Linked DNA regions of Homo sapiens: region 1 is linked to region 2. A link means that fine-mapping ties the variant in region 2 to the expression of a gene that starts in the linked region. Tissue or cell type: whole blood. Region 2 holds a variant in brackets; the other region holds the start of a gene. All regions are shown on one strand. Distances are between the middles of the regions.

Region 1 (2,613 bases), 360 kb after region 2:
TAAAACACTGCCCTATGTGTGTGTACTTTTTAGCTAAAAAAGTGTTTGAAAACAGTATTATTTTGAAACTCAAAATTCCAAATCCTCTCTTCAAATTAGGTAGTAGTGTCACTGGAAGTAAAAGAGAAGTTACTTTAACTGCTAAAGAGTATCCACTAAGAATCTACATCAAACATCATGTTTAATGCTCAAACTTTAGAAGAATTTATACCAAAAGTCAAGAATAAGATAGGATATCTATCTTCATTATTAAGCAACATTATATTAGAGGACCTAATCAATGCAACAAGGCAATAAATAAAAGACAAAACTGTCATAATCAGATACTACAAACATCTAAGAAAATTCAGGGGGATTTACAGTCATATATTAAACAGTCCAGAAGGAGTCCTATACATCATCAATGAATATTGAGAATAAAAAATAGTTTTTAAAACCCCTCCAATTTATAAGGGCAACAAAATGTACAAGGTACTAAAATAAATGTAATGTGTATTTGGGTATAAATACAGCAACATAATGAAAAGGTTTATTGGGGAAAAAATTACAGGGAGAAGGGTCAACAACGTGAAGAGGTTCCCCTGCCATCTGGACTTCTGGAAAAAGACCTGCTGGTCTAGGCACAGCTGGATGCACCATGGAAAGTGGTTCCAATAAACACTGGCACTGTAACAATTGTGTATGTTGATACAAAAAGAGGGAGCCAATGAATACTTGGTCGATTATTTAACAATTGCTTCTCTGCTGAAGAAATGGCCTTGTTGGACTAGAGCTTAACTGTGGTTCACATACTAATGCTGCTATAACAGCTAGAAGCCTTACTAAGAAATTTGCTAAACCACCAAAAAGAGGAAATGAACCTTCTAGGATATCTGGATTGCCTTTTCTTAAAAATCTAGTCTTGGCTGGGTGCTGTGGTTCACGCCTGTAATCCCAGCATTTGGTGAGGCCGAAGTGGGCGGATCACGAGGTCAAGAGATCGAGACCATCCTGGTCAACATGGTGAAACCCTGTCTCTACTGAAAATACAAAAATTAGCTGGGCGAGGTGGCATGTGCCTGTAGTCCCAGCTGCTGGGGAGGCTGAGGAAGGAGAATCACTTGAACCCAGGAGGCTGGGTTTGCAGTGAGCTGAGATCACGCCATTGCACTCCAGCCTGGCAACAGAGCAAGACTCAGTCTAAAAAAAAAAAAAATATATCTAGTCTGTATGGCAGCACAACATCAGGTAAAAGTACAGACTAGCCAGATCACTGGTTAACCTTAACCCCTATGTGCTTGAGTTTCCTTATCTGTAATATGGAGATGATATAGCAATAGCTGATTTTGGACTGTTAAAGGAATTAAGTGGACACATGTAAAGTGCTTAGAATTGTGCCTGGCAAGTAGTAGGCTGCAATATTGTGATATAATAAATATATATATTTGATCTTCATCCAGTTCCTGGCACAGATCTCCAGAAACCCTTGTAATTTCCTGAGTGACAGGGGTGATAGAAACATCTTTTATTAGAATACTTGGTCTTGGTTCCTGACACAAGAGCTTCTAAGACCTTTGGAATCTCCAAGTGATAAGAGTGTATGACAGTGAGCTAACTGGTGGCTGGGATCCTTTAGACAACTTCAGGATGGGGGCTATCCCCTGAAAGACTAAGGCATGATTAGAGGTCTGGGATTTGCAGCCCCACGCCTCGACCTCCAGAGAGGGTAAAAGGGCTGGAGATTGATTAACCACCAGTTGCCAGTGATTTAACCAATCATGCCTAAGTGATGGCACCTCCATTAAAAAATAAACCACAGGTTTGGAGAGCTTTCGGTTTGGTTAACCCCAACCACATACCAAGAAGGCGATGCACCTCAAACTGCATGAAGACAAAAGGTCCTGTGCTCACCTGGGACCCTTCTGGACGTTGCCCTGTGTACCTCTTCGACTGCCTGTTCATCTGTATCCTTTATAATAAAGCAGTAAACATAAGTAAAGTTTCTGAGTTCTGTGAGCCATTATAAGAAACGATCGAACCTGGGATTTTCCTTTCGGAAGCCGCTCTCTCTCACAAGGGAGAGAGCTGTTCTCCTTTTTCTTTTGCGTGTTAAACCTCCGCTCCTAAACCCACTCTTCGTGTGTATCGTGTCCTTAACCTTGTTGGTGCGAGACGACGAACCCCGGGTATTGACCCCAGACAACAATGCCACTTCATATTGGGGACTTCGTCTGGGATTCCAAGGTGCATTCATTGCAAAGGTGAGTAAAGGGGCGGACCTCAACTCTGTCCTTTGATTTCGAGGCTCTTGGCCTCCATTTTAGAATCAAACCAAACCAAATACTGGGCCCCCTTCTGCTTCTGTGAATGAGAAAACTCTGCCTTCACCAATTAGCCATTTAAAAATTATGAGCGTGGCTGCCAGCCTTACAAGTTTTGGGGGACAGGCTTGCTGGGGAGAACATGGAGAACCCCCCAATACCCACGGGCTGCTGGGCATATTGGCCATGTTTGAACCAGTTTCCTTTCACGGAGGACCAAGCTGTCGTGTGGGGCTGGAAGAGGTCCTGGAGCAACTGAGGATTTCTGGCTGGGGCTACCTCCTGGTGCCATCCGAAGGCTTCTGGACTGACC
Region 2 (2,767 bases):
TAATAAATAGTAGCTTTTAGTTTTAGAGGGAGCAGTTGGGACATATGGATGAGACTCAGAAGTGTATGAAATTGGCATAGAAAGAACAAACAAGCATCAAAATCCCCATCACAGGAAAAAAGTCTTTAAGTACTTAATAGATTTGTAGGTGGTCGTGAAGAAAAGGGGCACTGTACAGGAACACAGTCCTAAAGTAGCTGGTATACTGCTTAGGAAATCAAAGAGCAGAAAAATAACATGGTTTGTGTACTTTAGGATGGAAACCACTGGTGTGAGATAGCAAGGATGGAAAAGCAAAAATCAGCCAACTCTGAGATTGTGCACAGATTTACTGACCACTACCAGATGAATACAATATCTGATAATGATACAGCTTGGCTGTGTCCCCACCCAAATCTTATCTCGAATTGTAGCTCCCATAATTCCACATCTTGTGGGAGGGAACTGGTGGGAGATAATTGAATTATGGGGGACAGTTTTCCCCATACTGTTCTTGTGGTAGTGAATAAGTCTCAGGAGATCTGATGATTTTATAAGAGATTTCCCCTTTCTCTTGACTCTCATTGCCTTTGCCTGCCACCATGTAAGATGTGCCTTTTGCCTTCTGCCATGATTGTGAGGCCTCCCCAACCACATGGAACTATGAGTCCATTAAACCTCTTTTTTTTTTTTTTTTTTTAAGATAAATTACCCAGTCTCAGGTATGACTTAATCAGCAGCATGAAAATGGACTAATACAGATACTTTTCAAAAAGATTAGGGATTAATTAATTACCAATACCTACTCTTGGAGATATGATTTTCTTTTTTCTTGATAGGGCAAATCCAGTGGATTCCAATTGTTCTTTATAGAGAAAATGTGACTTCTGTCAACTCCACTTAATTAAGAGTTTACCTTGGATTTTAATGTTGGGAGCGGGCAGAGAAAAAAAGAACAAACATCCTCCAAAGGGAACAAGAATGCATTATAAACTGACTGAAAAGTCAGAGACAAATGCCCAATGTGATCCTCGAGATAAAAACGAAAATGGCCATTGGTGATCAAATGGCATTAGTTCACTAAGAAAATGGTCCTGGAAATTAATTTTGCTAAAATGTCTTTGATGAAAGCAAAGTAAGTACAGAATGAGAAAAACAAAGAGTTGGAGAATAAGATATTAATTGTCACAGTAGATACATTTCTGGAAATCTGACTGGATGAACAAAGTTAAATTTCCATAAGAACATACTTCAGGAAGTAATATCACAAAGATGTGTCTGTATATACATTTATAATATATGTCCATTTGCAATAAACAATATGTCTGAAGCTTCCTGAAGGTAATGGCTAAGCTGATCCTATTTCATGTGGTCTTATCTTGTTTAGCAGGTGGAAATAGACAATACATAGTCATTCAGCAGGCTGTTGTTTTCATATGATACAAAGTAAAGTTGATATAACTGTTTAGATGGAACAATCACAGCATGGCTTACTTTAAGAGAAAACCCAAGCTTCCCGAGTTTAGTATATGATTTATTTTTTCTTCATCTATATTAAGCAATAGTAAAACTAAGCCTTGATAGGGGGACACTTCCAATGTTTTACATTTTAGTTGAATTAAAAGATAT[C/T]TCCTTTTCCAAAAATAAGACCTATAAATGATTTGTTTTCTAGGTAACTAGTGTACAATGCCCCTTCCCTCTGTTTGGTAGCTAAAGGTCTACAGTTATGAGAAAATGGAATAACATAATGGGGTAGAGGCCATAAAATATTTTAAACACATTACCAAGTTATTTTTTCTATCTTCTATTTTTAATGTATACAAAACATTTATTCATTTTGTGTTAACAACTTTGTTATTTATTCAGTCTGTTGTTAAATGGTATGAATATTTGAAAATTTAATCCTGATTGATACAAGGAGGAACATAAAAATATCTATAACAAAAATGTTTTCATGACCCCATTGTTAAAAGATTAACCTTTTTTAAGGCCATGTTATGGGGACTTTTACTTGAGTGCTTACTATAAAGTGTTTTAGATGTATTTCATTTATATTATTGCAAGGATTAAAATTAAATATGCTGTAAGTGGGAAAATTTGTATTATGATGGCCACTAAGAGTATTTAAAAGCATTATAAGTTGTCACACACCTCATTAACTAATATTGATTAGAATTTCGGAGTTAAAAATGTTGCTCATTTTACAGGTCATTACAATTAAGTGCTTACAGCCACCAAAATCATATTTTGGTAAAGTGTGTATTGCATAACCCAGGCACATTTTCATGCTAGAAAAATGTTTAAATGATATGCATTGCTTTGTATGCTGGAAAGATAGGCGATCATTATGGATCTATTGCAAGGCACTGAATTGGAATATATTCAGATTGAATTTCTGAGCTGTGTTGTGCATCAGAAATTTCTATATTCTCATCTCAATATTTAGACCTTCTCTTTCTCTACTCATCTGTGAAGATGATAATTCACTCCTTCATCAGTGCTCTATTTTGTACCTTCGATGTCCCTACTGTATGTCTGTCTCGAAACTATTGATTCAACAAAGTACTTTCTGCCACAGTTTATACCATTTTGGAGATGAGATACTTAACTGAATGTTCTCTTGTTCATTTAGCCACTGCTCACCGTTAACCTTGCTTTCTTCCTTTCTATATACCCATATTTCTACCTAAATGGGTTAAAAAATTGATATATTGTGTGTTTATTCTTTGGAAGAGTTAACAATTAAGATTGTAGACAAAAGCATCACAATGGGAAAAACTGCCTTATA

What was found. PIP is the estimated chance that this variant, and not a neighbour inherited with it, causes the effect.
Region 1: it holds the start of NAIP, and the variant in region 2 is fine-mapped to the expression of NAIP in whole blood (TOPMed, PIP above 0.99). The same link has a PIP of 0.9 or more in thyroid.

What each region holds. Positions count from the first base shown.
Region 1 is chr5:71,023,945-71,026,557 of GRCh38, reverse strand. It overlaps NAIP (NLR family apoptosis inhibitory protein), which reads left to right and starts at 1,219. Exons shown (of 17, transcript NM_004536.3): 1 at 1,219-1,943; 2 at 2,152-2,240. RefSeq lists cis regulatory regions at 1-1,090, 1,456-1,669 and promoters at 1,091-1,455, 860-2,613.
Region 2 is chr5:71,378,930-71,381,696 of GRCh38, reverse strand. The region is part of intron 2 of LINC02197 (long intergenic non-protein coding RNA 2197); the gene reads left to right. It also overlaps the pseudogene PMCHL2. Among named protein-coding and RNA genes, the nearest start is that of LINC02197, 66 kb to the left of the region's middle. The variant C/T (reference allele first, on the strand shown) is at 1,609.